Linked DNA regions of Homo sapiens. The protein of the gene in region 1 purifies or fractionates together with the protein of each later gene. This does not show direct contact. Each region holds a gene or a part of one and is shown on either strand. Other genes may lie near its edges. The genes, in order: OCRL and PAK2.

Region 1 (7,578 bases):
GTTAGCTGTCCTCCATTTCCAATGACAATAAAACCTGAAGAAGTAGCTTTCTGTTGCATTAAAAATGATTTGAGGTTAATGATCATAGCAATTAATTTCAGAAAAAAATACACAGATATGATCAAGAAATAGAGCATAGAATAGAACCGTGGACCTGAACAAGATCATAAAAGATCATCTGGTTCAGGCCTCTACCTTCAGACAGGGTATTTTCTCCATTCTAATAGATGAGACAACCAAGGCCCAGAAAGGTTGAAAAACTTGCTGAAGTCATGCACTGTACCCACTTGGTGGAATTTAATGCCTTTTGATGATGGGGATGGTATACTGTTTTCATGCTTTAGTTATTAACACTAAGTAAGGTTACAGAGTGTGGGCTTATCAGGCGCTGAATGTGTCTTGTTGAAAGAAGACAAAGTACCTTGGTTTTCCTTTGAAAATTAGAGTTCAGGATAATTTGTGAAATTATTCAAGTATTTTCTGTGTATGATCTTTCTCTAGACTTTGGAGACACAACTGTGGCATTCCATATTATCATACAGGAATTTGAAAATGAATAGTGGATGGTGTATATAATCTACTGACACTTTATTAACCTTTTTAAACCACCAAGGTTTGAGACAGCTGTGCTTCCTAGCTCTTCCCTGTTAAGAGCAGTCCATGTTCTGTCTTTTTATCTTAGGCAGTGCCTTGTGTTGCCTTAATGCCTTAGTACAGGAAAAGCTCCAGTTGGATGTCAGACTTTTTAAAAAGTACATGAATCAGTGCTGCATAATTTCTATATGGCAAGTTTGGAGGCATCTGCTAAAGAATCAGTACACGTGCTGCATTTGGTCCAGAGAGTTAGCAGAGTGCATGATGGACAGTGTTTTGTCTCAAATACCATGTGGATGCTTGGATTTGATATTTGTAACTGGAAAGAAGTAAATGGATGAGCCATTGATAGACATTCTGGCAACTATTAGGAACATGAATATCAAGTGATAGAATCCCAGGGAAAGAAAGGAAGCAAACTGAATGTGGGGAAAAAAAAGAAAGATTTTAAATGGTAACCAACTGTCACACTCCCTTCTCTTTCTTATTCCCTTGGAAAGGCACAGCAGCTTTTAAAGGTCATCAGTGCTTGTTAAAGAACACAATGTTAAGAAGAGACCTCAGCTCGGCTGTAGTGTATGTGGTCTCTGTCAAAGTAGTGACATGCTCCTTTTTTTTTCTTTTAAAGCTACGTGACTGGGGGTTGTGGATGGAATTCACAAGTTGCACAATGTTAGGCAAGAATTTCTTAGTTAAACATACAGAATATATATGACCTCAAGCTAGAGGCGGGGGAGGGAGGAGGATGCAAAAAAATTGGTCATGGTTCTCTCCACTGGGATTTTTATGAAGGGTGCCTTCAGGTGCCTTTACTATTTCAAACATTTTTTCATGTAATTTATATTTGATTACATGAACCTAAGATAACTGAGTTTATTTCCTAGCCATTTCCAATTCACATATAGTGATTGATTTGATTTATGTCACTTCTGGGTTTTTCTCTTACAAAATTCTTTCAGAAGAATATAACAGATAGTAGAAAGATAGATGAAAGGAGTAAAAGCCCCTAGAAATCTTGGCTGAGCTATTCCTAGAAACTGTAACTTCTGGACTCAGACCTTAAACTTTTCGTGGTATTTCTGCCTCTTGGTTAGCTGTATTCAGTTTACTATTTTTGGACCTTAAGGCTTACGAGTTTTAGCACCTTAAGATTAGAACTTCCATCAAGCCTGAAGTATTTACATATGTGGGTCTAATGTTGTGGAGAGTTGTCTTTAATTCCTGAAAACTAAAGAAGCTAATTTAAATCAACATTGAAAACAAACAACAGTATCTGTGGTAAGACCTGAAGGAAGAGTAAGTTAGAAATAAACAAAAACCTAAGTGTAGACCTTGATCTCTCAAACTACTGTATTGACAATTGTAATTTAATAGTCCCCAAGTCACCAGTGCTGTATGGACTCCACTGTGACTGTATCACCGGAGCACTGGTTCTCAGTGTCACCTTTGAAAGGATTTAAACACAAGGCATCCACGTAATAAACATCATAAACGCAAATGAAATGCAGAACAATTAAGTGAAGCATTTAGGAAAGGACATCCTTTAACTATGGGACTCGCTATCAAGTGCCTTCTGACCAGGAGTGTCCCCAGTGAGAAGAAATGGAAAATCTTAAGAGATGAAGATCACATTTTACCTGCATGACCAGAATTTGAAGGACTTTAAGTTATACACCAAAGTCTTTATTCTGAGACCCCTTTGATTCTCATACTTTTCCATCTATTAGGAGAAATCCCTTCTGCAAATGGTTCCTTTGGATGAAGGTGCCAGTGAGAGACCCCTTCAGGTTCCCAAGGAGATCTGGCTTCTAGTAGATCACCTATTCAAATACGCCTGTCACCAGGTAAGTGAGAGTAGACCTTCCCTACAACTTTGGAAGGTGTGTAACTACTATAGGAAATCACAACACCTCACGTCAGCATAGCGCTTTTAACTTTCCCAAGCTACCTGCACACAGTGGCACTGTCAGATCGACTGGGTGGGTGGAAGTGTCCTAGTCACAGATGTCACAGCTGAAGCATGTAAAGGTAAGTTATTTACTAAGACAAAGGCCTAAGTGTAGTTGTGGCAGAGCCAGGACCAAATTAAGAGCACCTGTCTCCTGGCTACCCTCTCATTTTCCCTGGACAGCTGCACACCTGAGTCTATAATGCCTACTTTGGCTATGAGTCATGTAGGCATTAGAGATTGTAAAATCCAAAGCAGATTTTAAACCCATTTTTTAACTTGGTCCTAATTTTTCTTTTAAATCCTAACTAAAATGCCACCCCACCTCATTCGCCCCCAAAAGAGATATTTCTTGGGACTAAATTGAAAGGTAATGTTCTCTTACCTACTGACGAATAATGTAACTTGAAAGCAAGGTTTAGTATGAGCATGCGATTTCCTCCTTCCCCAGCGTTCAGTAGTACTAGCATTTGAATGTGGTTATTCTGTTTGGACTCTGCCTTCTGCTGCTTGTCAAGAGGCTACAAGTAGGCCAGGCATGGTGGCTCATGCCTGTAATCCCAGCATTTTGGGAGGCAGAGACGGGCGCATTGCTTGAGCTCAGGAGTTTGAGACCAGCCTGGGCAACACGGTGAAACCCCATCTCTATAAAAAAAAATTTTAAAGGAGGCTAGAATTAGAACACCTGGTTTCCTGCTCTAGCCATCTAGTCCCCTGCCTTATTAGGTACAGGCTAAAACCTTTGAAAAGATCATTTTCCTATTTGAAATAACATTTCACATGGATTAGAGAAATGCTAAAGGAAAAATGTGTTATTTTCACACCTCCATTTGTAATTATTAACACACATACCACCCTTCCCTTTTGCTTCCTGCTGCTCTTCTGATCCTTGGGTAATCATCATAACCTCAGGAGTGATTATCTTGCCTGTCCCTTCATTCTGACTTCTTTGGTAGGAGGACCTGTTCCAGACCCCTGGAATGCAGGAAGAGCTCCAGCAGATCATTGATTGTCTGGATACCAGCATTCCTGAGACAATCCGTATCCTTTGCGACCAAAGCTTAAGAAGCTGGATGAGTACTTGATCAAACTCTTCTTCGCACCTATATTTGATTTTTGTGGTTCTATATTTATTTTCTTTGTAATATCTTTTATTATAAGATAACCACTGACTATCCACTTGTTTCTCATTTCCTTTCAGGAACTTTTGACCTCTTTCCATATCCAGCTCTTACTAAAAGGAAGCAAGGGGTAGATAACAATGACTTAAAAGCATGGGACATAGAAGCCACAGCACTGGTACTATTCTCCTTCAGGTGATCAGTCACTCCTGCCACCACACGTACTGTTGACAGGGCAGGGAGAAGGATGGGAAACATGGGCACCTGGTTTATAGGACTGCTCCAGTGTCAACTGTCACTCTGCAGGCTATATTCCCCTGACCCTGAAGCTGGGCCAAAGCTGCCAAGAGTCTTTGACCAATTCTGTAACAACTCACCTGCAGGGCACTTGAATCAATAAAATATCAAACCCCCATTAGGATCAATGTGCCCTGAATAAGAGGAGGGAAACAGTCCCTGTAGGAGCTTGAGGAAAGGAGCTCGTCGGGGCTCTGTGTGGCCTTTCTCCTGGAGCTCCTTTCCCTTGACTTAAGTTGATTCAGCTGGCAGCAACCACTCTGTGGCTGAAGCACTGCTCATTTTCTTGGAAGCCCTGCCAGAGCCAGTCATCTGTTACGAGCTGTATCAGCGATGTCTTGACTCTGCTTATGATCCCCGGATCTGCCGACAGGTGGGTTCTACTGACCTGGGGATGTGTTTGACGCAGATTGCCCCATAGAGAAGTCGTCAGTTTTACAGAGCCAGATAGGCAGCCAGCTGTCTGGTAGGATGGGTCTGCATCTGTTATTAATGGCAGGACACCAACATTGAGAGTTGCTACCCTTAAATTTTAGGTTGTGTTGTTTCCTACGATATTTGCCACCTTTTTCCCATTGGCCTATTTCTGTTTACAGAAAACATAGTGGGGTGGATCCCTCTACTCTGGGGTAAATTGGTGAAGCTGATTGTACGTGGAATTCTGGCTGACATTACCAGGAAGGATGGGTGACACTTGGGAGCCTTTCTTCTTTTTCTCTTCTTGGTGTGTGTTTTTAATCCTGAAATGATTTTAATGCACAGTAGCTGACAGTACCTGTGAATTGGACTAGTGAGTATTGAGAGGAGTCCCCATCCATGCTAAGTGACATTGTAAAGAAAACCATTCAAACAAAAAAGAACAGAAAACCATTCAGCTTGGTAGGTGCCGTGGCTACATGCCTACGGAAATGGGAAAAGAACAGATGAACACTGACCTATTGTGAGGCAGGGTGTGCGTATGAATGTGTGATGACCACGTGGCCTGGTCATTGAGTGGACAGGGACCAAACAGCACGGCCACTCTTACTTTGAAGTTATAATTTGGAAGGTATTGTGTTGGCCATGAGGAGATAATAGAAGTTAGACAGATGAAATGGGTCCTGCAAGGGTTGGATTATAGACTACTATTACAGCAGCTGTAAGTTCCTCTTACTTTCATCTTCCACCTGTTTTTCTCACTGCCTGCCCCTATTTTTAAAAACAGGTGATCTCCCAGCTTCCGAGATGCCATAGAAATGTTTTCCGTTACTTGATGGCATTCCTTCGAGAACTCTTAAAATTCTCTGAATACAATAGCGTCAATGCCAACATGATCGGTAAGAGTGCTTCATGCAACACGGGGCGTTTGTTGAGAATACTCTTAGTGCATTGTATCCAGTATATACCTTACTGCATATGCAGGCACATGGCAGTCAATAGTCCTTGTCCCCAGGCCCTCCAGCCCTGAGGTTTTGCTTAGGTTATGTCTGACAGAAGTTTCCGCTTGTCTTTCTCTCGTCTTGTAGCTACTCTCTTCACTAGTCTTCTCCTGAGGCCTCCACCCAACCTTATGGCAAGACAGACTCCAAGTGACCGCCAGCGTGCTATTCAGTTCCTTCTGGGCTTTCTGCTTGGGAGCGAAGAAGACTAAGGCTTTTACTGTTCTCTGATATTCTAGAAGCAGACGATCTCGGGCTCCAAGTATTTCAGAATGATTTAAAAAGTCATGCCACAGGAAGGGTCTATTGCAGAATTTCAAGTTCTGTTTATAGTAAAAAGGAAGAGCGTTTCCTAATCCCTCCTTTACCATATCCTACACAGAAAAATACTTTTAGACTTATATTGCCAAGCCAAAGTTACCATATTTTGGTGTTTTTGTGTTTTCTCTTTATAAGGCAAAAAGATCTGTATTTACACTCCTTCACCTAGGGATGTGTTTGTTGCCCTCCTACCCAATTGTCATGATTGTCCTTAGTACCCTAGGCCTAGATTCTGAGATCTTCCCATTCTAGGCCTACAAGCACTACTTGCTGTAGCTGAGACTTGTCTAGAGTCCTTTGTTTTGCACTTTTGACCCACCCCTTCCTGGATCACTCCTTTGCACTCCACTCCCCTCGTTCTGTCACTTTGAACGAAGTCTGAGTGAGGCTAGTGACTCCTTGGGTGTCCTCAACAGTGAATTCACTGTCTGCGTGCAGTTATTACATGCATTTGTGCATTTCTACTACAATGGCATCTTTATGTCTCTGTAACATTGGCCTTTTCATGGCTCCACACTGGGTGGAACCATATTCTCTTAGATCACATTTAGTAGCATAACTGTAGGGACTATTAGAGATGGCATCTCATCGATGAGAGAGAATCACAATCAGAATGGAAGCACTTTGAGTATCTGAAGAGTGAGAGCATTCATGTTTGACAGGTCCTGCTTCCCACTATCCTTTTCCTGTTATTATTCAAATTTTACACAAGGACTAATCCTGGGTGTCTCTGAGACCCATCTCCTGCCTAGACATCCACCTCCAGAGCAACACTGGCCCCACAGTAAAAGAGGAAGTCTTGTACCTCAGGCAGGCCCATCTAGAGCTATTGCTCCTTCCCACAGCAAAGGTATTGTGGATGACCCTTAGAATCCATTCTCTGGTCTTCTGAAATACCAAGGGCAGATGTCACCTCCTTCCTCAGCAGGACTGACTCTGGGCTCTACAACCAGCTCCTTCACATAAAGGGTTTAGAGACTCCCCTTGGCTCCCAGTCACCATATCCAGTGTTGTGTAAAGAGACTGGCCAACAGGACCAACCAAGCACCTTACCTCTCCCATACAAGATGACCCTCTGAGCTTTTCATTTATTCAAGCTCTGTGGTACAGCCTTTTTTTAAAATAAATTAATCTATATTGGTTGACAAACAAGCCACCAACCACTGACTGCAAAACTGCCTGATGCAGTTGGGTTCCTCCTGGTTTTCTTTTGTTACAACCACCCTTGCCTGTTTACATTAATTGCAAGGAGCATAACGTACAGGCTGTATGTACAATCCTGGGCATTGACTCTGTGACATTTCTAGCATATCCAAGGCACCACCAGTGATTTCTCCTGTTTCTTGGTGGGGGTGGGGGGGAAGGTACGTATTCTGCAATATGGCTAAACCCTTTCCTGATTGAGAGTTAAAGCAATAGGAGTCAAGTTACTGGTGCCACAGATCTGGAGGTATGATAGGTCAGGGGCTAGGTGTTGAACTTAGTTAATGGAAGACTGAGAGCAGAACAGGTTTGTCATCTCCGCAAGGCCAGAAAGTGATCACAAAAAGAGGCAGATGATAGACACTGGGGTAGGGTCATACCACAGGGAAATACCTTTCCTGGGCTTGTTTTCTAGCATATCACTGACCTGGGATCTTTGGGTGATCAAGGGTGTGGTTAGTGGAGGCTCTGTGCTGCACGTATGCAGTATCCTATCTCTTTCTACATCAGATCAAAACACTAAGTTGGTGTACTGCCTCGACCTTTTTTCAGCTCATCCTGGAACATATACAGAGTTGAGAGTTTTAGACAATCTCTAGGTAGAGGAGACAAGATGTAGACCCAGACAGAAGAAATCTGCTTCCCTACCATGGCTATTCCAGCACCCCAACCTGTA
Region 2 (8,811 bases), on another chromosome or scaffold:
CTACAGGTGTGCGGCACCATGCCCAGCTAATTTTTGTATTTTTAGTAGAGACAGGGTTTCACCACGTTGGCCAGGATGGTCTCGATCTCATGACCTGGTGATCCACCTGCCTCGGCCTCCCAAAGTGCTGGGATTACAGGCGTGAGCTACCGTGCCTAGCCTGAAAAGTTTATTTCTATGAACATGTTCTCCATAACTAGGGATAAAGTCTCTAAACATTATTTTTTCCTCATTCTAAACAAATTTAAATATGGAAGAAAATCACCTATAATCACCTCTATCTTCAATAAAACCACTGTTATCATTTTCAACGAATCTTCTCTCATGCAGTTGTAGTAATATACATCATTTTCTTTTCTTTTTTTTTTTTTTTGAGATGGAGTCTCATTCCATTGCCCAGGCTGGAGTGCAGTGGTGCGATCTCGGCTCACTGCAACCTCCACCTCCTGGGTTCAAGCAATTCTCCTGCCTCAGCCTCCTGAGTAGCTGGGATTACAGGTGTGAGCCACTGCACCCAGCCAATATGCATCATTTTCTATTCTGCTTTTTGGTCTGTTATTTAACATTAATTCCTCAACTAAATGAGGTTTTGATAGACATATAAATTTGTCCATGAAGGATAGCATTTGAAATAAAAATTGATCCACAAGTTTAAAAACCATGTAACCAGTCCCCTCTGTCAGTCAAGACACGAATCACAGCCAACCATTCATGTGTTCGCTTCAGGTCGTTTGCGATGAGTATAAACACCACCAGCTATGGCCTTCAATTAACTGCCTTCTCTCACCTGCCAAGTGATGTCCTTGCAGAGAAGGACCTTCTAAAACTGCACTGTGCTATTTTTACCTCTCCTCTTCTTTCTTCCATCTTATTTCTCGGCACTGACAGTTTATTCCAAAGTGGCCAGCCCCACCCCCGAAACCATGAGACTTAAAATTTCTACATTTTCTCCCGGTGTTTAAGGAATAGTCATACTTACCTGTCCAAAAAGTTAACGATGTTGGGATTTTTCAATTCTTTCATCACCAGAATCTCGTTAATGATCAGTTCCTTCTTTGGCTGTTTCTGTAAATTAATTTGTTTGATAGCAACCTATAATGAAAACAGGATTGAAAAAAACCAGGTTTAGGAATTCTCTTAGAAAATTACAAACCCCAAGCAGTTGATAACTCACGGTACGTGTACTGTATTACACCATGCTATTACTCCCAGGTGGCACCTTGCCTTGCACACTGCCTGTGCACAATGCTTTGTAATGTTTAGAACCTAGTTTTAGATTTATCTTGAAGTTGATTAATACACCCACAGTCAGTCCAATACTAAGAATTAATCCTCTTTTCACTTCAAGCTGAGGAAACAATTTTTAAGTATTTGCTTATTTATGACATTGAACTCATAAGTCCTTCCCCGCCTTACTGACAGAAGTGCTATAAACATACGTAGAGCGATTCTTACAACGGGCTCAACTTAAAAGAGGTTCCTATTGCTTCTTCCCAGCTTCATCTAGTTTCCACCTATATGACAAAATAATGGTAACACCCAGGATTACAACAAAGTAACTACCTCCTGTCCCAGTGCAACGTCAGTAGCAGTGAAAACTGTACCAGAAGCCCTAGAGGGAGAAAACACACAACCAGATTTAAGGTTGATAAATCACTAGCATTTGCAATATCCAAAGACTTTACACTTCAAGCAATTGAAAAAGAATTAAAGAACAGGATGACCTAACGTGCTTAAAAGGAGTAAAAGCAAAAACCTGAGGAAAGGGGGTGGGGGAAGAAAGAGACAATCCTTACGGCAAAACTTATGTGTGAAATATTTCAGACCTACAAAAATGTAGGGAAAAAAGAGCAGGAAAAAAATTATATAACATATACTTAAGGATACACTTCCCTGATTAAGATACAAATAACTGTAAATAATTTGAAGATTCCCATAAGCCCTTTCCGACAGCAGTCTCCTTCCTCCCAAAGGTGATCTGTATTTGGTGTTTATCCTGTATTTGGTGTTCATCATTTTCATGCATTTCTCCATACTTTTAACTACAAAGGACGCAGATATGTATCCCTATAAAATATACTTTGTCTAATTTTTAAACGTCATATAGTTTCATTTCACATATTATTCTGCAACTTGCTTTTGTGACTCAACACTGGATTTGTGATGGTCATCCATATGGATAGGTATTGCTTGTTCATTCATGCTCAAAAATAGTAAGATAATCTTCAATTCTCTTTCATAAAACCAGTGCTGCAATTGAATTTAGCTGTTAGGAAGAAATTCAGGCCTGGTGCAGTGGCTCACACCTGTAATCCCAACACTTTGGGAGGCTGAGGCAGAAGAATCGTTTGAACCCGGGAGGCAGAGGTTGCAGTGAGCTGAGATTATGTCACTGCACTCCAGCCTGAGTGACAGACTCCGCCAAAAAAAAAAAAAAAAAAAAAGGGAAGGAAGGAAGAGAAGGAAGGGAAGGGAGGGAAGGAAGGGAGGGAAGGGAGGGAAGGGAAGGAAGGAAAGGAAGGGAAGGAAGGGAGGGAGGGAAGGGAGGGAAGGGAGGGAAGGGAAGGAAGGGAGGGAGGGGAGGGAGGGAAGGAAGGGAAGGGAAGGGAGGGAGGGAAGGGAAGGAAGGGAGGAAGGAATTCATATGGAAGTTTTCAAAAATGGCTTAAGCCCTCACTCTAAATTCACAGAATGCTTTCCAGAGTTTAATAACATTAAAAATTTAGGTGTTTATTTGCTTCCAAGCAACAGAAAAAAGGAGTTTAGTTAGTATACTTTAAAAATACAAATTACACAACAAAATCAGAAGATCAGTAGACTCAAAAGTCAATACACAATGACATGATTTAAATGCATTTTTTATTGCTTATAGTCATGCAGTAAATATTCTTATTGTCTTTTAAATATATTTTATGGGCAATTCTTCCCTCTAATTATCACAGATGGGAAATGACACTTAAGAAAAAATAATGATACACAGTCATTGCTAACAACTAGTACAGTTTTTTAACAGCATCTACAAATAACTGCATTATTTATTTACACAAATCCCCCAAGGGTACCACTCACAGAATACTATATAAGTACTTGATGTCGGCAGGCAAAATAAACATCATGCTATAAAGCCAGGAAATACTGAATACTGAATATTATCGTAATACAGTCACAAATACTTACCCTTGTCCAATTTTTTCATATCTTGTATATTTTTTCTTAGGGTCACCTATGCTCACGATAGTTCCTAGAATAAACAAAAAGCTGGAAGCTCAGTCAAGCATTTTAAGTGTAAATTGATTGTGATATTATTATTCCTTTTAATGAACTCCACTGTTTTTATAAGTGATTTTCAAACATAATACTAAGTTCCAAAAATAACAGGTTTCAAACACAAAACACTAAAGAAACTTAAATACATAATAAAAGTTTAAAAGTATCAGAAACAAGACACATTAAAAGTTTAAAAGTAACAGAAACAAGAAGACACATTATTTCCATTAGGTTAGACCTCCTAACTAATCATTTGCTCAATAATGGTCACATTTTGAAAAGACTGTACCAGTTTGTCAGAGATTAATTAGGTTCTCAGATGTTCAGCTTTAGAATCAGGTAATCTCAAGAAAATAGACATATTTGAATATAAAATAGATATATTTGAATATAGAAATAGATATATTTGAATATATCTATTAATAGGTAAGTTTGAGACTACTTAGTATTATAAATAATAAAGGCTATCTAAACCCTAAATGGTCTTTCTGACTCTTCCAGTATACATTTCATCTTTCAATATATTTAGAAAACCACTTATTACCATAAAAATTACTATGCTCTGACATAAACTAATCATATGTTTGTTTTAGGAAAGTTCAAAGTCACAAGAAAGAGGTTTTAAAATTAGGAAGTTGGACATAAAATCCTAACTTATATTCTTATTACTAGTAAGAAAAACCACATTAAACTTTCACTTGCTCAAGGTAAAAAAGGACAGGACCATATCAAGGAAACTGACATAAATAGTTTTATGTAGGTACCCAACCTCAAGTCAACAAGCAAAGAAACAGGATCAATAATAAGAGGCTAAGAACAAAAAGATACCAAAAAGACTGGGGATGTGACAGCTAAAGGTCACAACTAAATGATGACAATTAGGATTCTAGTTAATTTTTTTTTTTTTTTTAAGTAGCAGCTCTCCTAAAATAATTCTTATATGCTCATAGAGTAACAGAGCAGGCCAGGTGTGGTGACTCATGCCTGAGGTCAGGAGTTTGAGACCAGCCCAGCCAACATGGTGAAACCCCATCTCTACTAAAACTACAAAAATTAGCGGGGTGTGGTGGCGCACACCTGTAGCCCCAGCTACTCGGGAGGCTGAGGCAGAAGAAACGCTTGAACTGGAGAGGCAGAGATTGCAGTGAGCCACGCCACTGCACTCCAGCCTGGGTGACAGAGCGAGACTCTGTCTCAAAAAAAAAAAAAAAAAAAGATAATAATAATAACAGAGTAAGAGCCAGGTTTATACTTGAAAGCACTGAGAAATCAAAACCAAATAAACATGGGGCATATAAACATTTGTTTATTTTTTAGAGACAGGGTCTCACTCTGTCACCCAGGCTGGAGTGCAGTGGCGCAATCACAGCTCACTACAGCCTTGAACTCACGGGCTCAAGCAATCCTCCTGCCTCAGGCTCCCAGTCAGCTGGGACTACAGACATGCACCACCAGGTCTCGTTAATTTTCTTTTTTTCTTTTTTTTTTGAGGGGGTGGAGTCGGGGTCTAAGTTGTATAGTTCGGCCTTGAACTCCTGGACTCCAGCTATCCTCCTATCTTGGCCAGCCAACGTACCGAGATTATAGGTTTGAGCCACTATGCCCAGGCTTTATGTTTAAAACAATCCTTCCATACAGTATTTTTCCTTGAACCCTCTAGATTAGCATTCTTTAATTGTTAATTTTATTTATTATTATTTTTTGAGACTGAGTCTCGCTCTTTCGCCCAGGCTGGAGTGCAGTGGCACGATCTCGGCTCACTGCAATCTCCGCCTCCCAGGTTCAAGTGATTCTCCTGCCTTAGCTCCCCAAGTAGCTGGGATTACAGGCACCTGCCATGACACCTTGCTAATTTTTGTTTTTAGTAGAGATGGGGTTTTGCCACATTGGCCAGGCTAGTCTTGCTCCTGACCTCAAGTGATCCACCCACCTTGGTCTCCCAAAGTGCTGGGATTATAGGCATGAGCCACAGTGCCCGGCCGGTTCGCTTTTTTTTTTTTTTTTTTGAGATGGAGTCTCACTGTTGCCAGGCTGGAGTGCAGTGGCGCGATCTCGGCTCACTATAACCTCCGCCTCCCGGGTTCAAGTGATTCTCTTGCCTCAGCCTCCCAAGCAGCTGGTACTACAGGCACATGCCACCATGCCCAGCTGATTTTTGTATTTTTAGTAGAGGAGGGGTTTCACCATACTGGCCAGGATGGTCTCGATCTCCTGACCTTGTGATCCGCCCACCTCGGCCTCCCAAAGTGCTGGGATTACAGGCGTGAGCCACCGCGCCCAGCCCAACGACGCAATCTTGGCTCACTGCAACCTCCACCTCCTGGGTTCAAGTGATTCTCTTGCCTCAGCCTCCAAGTAGCTGGGATTACAGGCACATGCCAGCACATCCAGCTAATTTTTGTATTTTTAGTAGAGACGGGGTTTCACCATGTTGGCCAGGCTGGTCTTGATCTCCTGACCTAGTGCTGGGATTTAGGGGTGAACCTGGTGACATCACCAGATTGTAATTGAAGCTACTGTTGCTATAAGGAAACAATTTATTCTTTATACTTTAAGTCACAATGTAAAGTGTAAGTTAAAATCCATCTGGGCCAAATGTTTTAAGAGCCGTGAACAATTTAACAATGATGTAAAATGTAGATAACATACTTAATTTCTCCATAATCTCTTCATCTGTCATCTTAGTCTTCTTTTTCTGTTTGTCTAAAGACTTGGCAGCACCATCAACATGTGAATCACCAACTGGTGCAGGAACAGGGTCAATTACAGACCGTGTGTAAATCTGTGGAGACACAGTTCATTACCAAGGTTTGAGGAATAATGTTTTCAGATATTCTTCCTGGCAAACTAATTCAGTTCTTTGATTTTTAACCTGAACTAAGTAGTCTTTTCCATTGTTCTAAATAATGAGAACACTATTTTCAGATATAAAAGATGTGTAACTAAGAAGAATAAATGTGAAACATTTTTCTTTGGCATAGCATGAATATATTTGAAAAGCTGTCTAGTAAAACAGCAGGTCCATGAATGAAATTTAAGTGTGACCAGGTCTAAAATGGTATAACAATGTATCAAAAAGCACGGTTTAAAAATCATGTTTTTACTACAAATGGTAAGTAAAATGCAAAAGAACAGAAACCTTGATGTTGAAATAACTATTATTAATTCCCATGAAAGTTTTTACACAATTATAATGCCTACCACCCATTTCAAACAGCCAGATTGAAAGGCTAAAGAAAACGGAGTCCTCTGCCATCAGCTTGGCATCCAGAGGCTGTCTCCTGAGCTCTGCCTGCCCGCTGTGCCAGGAGCACAGCCCATTCCACGGCACAGCACCTTCCGCACACTCTACCTGCAGTACTGAAGGGAGCAGAATGGTAACCGCAGTCATTCCTCTCTTCCTGGCTCCATTTAAGGTCATCATTTTTAAAATTCTCCCTTACCTGGTTAGGAATTTCATTCTCAACTGCCTTTTGAATGACAGCAAGGCGCTGAGAGTAGTGTAAAATGGGAGATTAAAATGCATAATCTGGGTAAGAGGAAAGCTCTAAGTTTTAGATTTAGTCGTCATCTACATTGAGATAAACAGAGAAAGCTTGGGAAATAGACGAACCCTCTGGAAAAGGTGTACTATACAAAGAAAAAAGCCCAGTGAGGTGAGTGCGTTAACTTTTAAAGACATCACATTTTAATCTTCAGAAAACTAGTTTTAGGTGAGTGGTCTTTGGGTACAGATTTCTTGGTTAAATTTCCCCATACTAAACGATTTTAAACTTGAGGGCTTTTTAAAAGCAATCACTGAAAGTCAAATACAAACTCTGCTATTTTTTAAAACACACGTGCACACACACAGCCTAGATCACCGATGGAGACTCACTGATTTCGTATGATCCGGTCGCGGGGCAATAACGGGAGGAGCAGTCTCTTCATCATCATCCTCCTCCTCTGTCACTACTGCGGGTGCTTCTGTTCCCTTGGCATTCAGCTGCATTGATGATGAGCAAAGTAAGGAAAACAAGTCCAATAGGCTTAAATGCGACTATCGCCCTTTATGAACGTACTTCAAAAAGTTTGCTTCTTTGATAGCTCATTTCAAAACCACTAAATCTCATTAGCTCTTAGATAACTCAATAGAATTATAATCTAACATAATAAGGCGATTCTATGAATCATGAAAAAGTTTATGAAATATATATATATGGTGAGTACCAAATATTTTAATAAAGTTACCCTAAGCATACATATACAATGTCCTGAAAGTAAACAATGTTACTTGTTAAGACCAAAATCAAAGATCCTCTGGGCTTTGTTATGTCAGAGACATCTGGTGACATTTAAAACAGTCAGATTTGGGGCCGGGCATGGTGGCTCACGTCTGTAATCCCAGCACTTTGGGAGGCCGAGGTGGGTGGATCACAAGGTCAGGAGATCAAGACCATCCTGGCTAACACGGTAAAACCCCGTCTCTACTAAAAACACAAAAAATTAGCTGGTCGTGGTGGCAGGCGCCTGTAGTCCCAGCTACTCGGGAGGCTGAGGCAGGAGAATGGAGTGAACCCAGAAGACGGTGCGTGCAGTGAGCCAAGATTGCGCCACTGCACTCCAGCCTGGGCGACAGAGCGAGACTCTAACTCAAAAAAAATAAAAATAAAATAAATAAATAAATAAAATAAAATAAAATATAAAAAAATAAAACTCCAGGAGACTGTTTCCTCCCAATTGAGAAACTGCAAATAAAACGACTGTTTCCAAAAACTGACTGTGTTTATGCGATAACTTAAGTTTCAGATGACTCTGAAGACTGACAAGGTTCAACTGTTCAGCACCTTTCCACAGTCTATATTCAGTAAAATAGTACCAGAAGGAAAACTGAGGGATGGAGAGGAAAATATATGCTAGCAAGTTCTTTGTGTTCACGTTTGTATATGTTAACATTACCAAAACTAACTAAACTGTTCTGAAGGTCATTATAAATTTTAGTTACATTAAGTATCACATCAAGGAATTTCTATTTAATACGGCTTCTTCAACTAATCAGGTGGCTAGCTAAAAACACCTATTGAGTAGTTATTTACCTCTGATGGCTGTAATTTATTTTAGAAAGCAAAATAAAAACTGAGATTTGTCTTGGGTAACCTAAATTAGAACAAGAGATACAAGAAATAATATAATTAACTTACTGCTGGTGTTCCAGAAGGAAAGCCATCTTTCTCTGAATATGAAACAAAACATAACATTAGCAATTCAAGAAACAGCACTTTTATATGATAAAAGGAAAAAAAAAAAGCAGAGAAAGTGAAATGTTCTTAAACTGATTTCAAGTTGAATTAACTCTTGAGAAAAATGAACACGCAAGTAGTCAAATAAGAATTTATATAAGACCAAGGTAAGAAATCTGAAATCTACATGAAACTATAAATTTAGTAAAAATCAGTGAATTATATATTTAAAATGGGTGAATTGTATTGCATGTAAATTATACCTCAATAAAGCTATCAAAATTTAGTTTGAAAGTATACCTATCAATCTGTATTTATTAAAACA

What was found.
Region 2: the proteins of OCRL (region 1) and PAK2 purify together in Homo sapiens (affinity purification with mass spectrometry; 2 studies listed by BioGRID and IntAct, with this or other methods). This does not show direct contact.

Annotation. Positions count from the first base shown.
Region 1 is NC_000023.11:129,584,681-129,592,258, forward strand, and holds part of OCRL (inositol polyphosphate 5-phosphatase OCRL), read left to right. Parts: intron 1-2,321; coding exon 2,322-2,438; intron 2,439-3,498; coding exon 3,499-3,583; intron 3,584-4,205; coding exon 4,206-4,333; intron 4,334-5,164; coding exon 5,165-5,276; intron 5,277-5,465; coding exon 5,466-5,590; 3' UTR 5,591-7,578. UniProt on the Homo sapiens protein: Catalyzes the hydrolysis of the 5-position phosphate of phosphatidylinositol 4,5-bisphosphate (PtdIns(4,5)P2) and phosphatidylinositol-3,4,5-bisphosphate (PtdIns(3,4,5)P3), with the greatest catalytic activity towards PtdIns(4,5)P2.
Region 2 is NC_000003.12:196,805,020-196,813,830, reverse strand, and holds part of PAK2 (serine/threonine-protein kinase PAK 2), read right to left. Parts: intron 8,480-8,811; coding exon 8,448-8,479; intron 7,253-8,447; coding exon 7,145-7,252; intron 6,050-7,144; coding exon 5,917-6,049; intron 3,242-5,916; coding exon 3,178-3,241; intron 1,613-3,177; coding exon 1,564-1,612; intron 1,093-1,563; coding exon 980-1,092; intron 1-979. UniProt on the Homo sapiens protein: Serine/threonine protein kinase that plays a role in a variety of different signaling pathways including cytoskeleton regulation, cell motility, cell cycle progression, apoptosis or proliferation.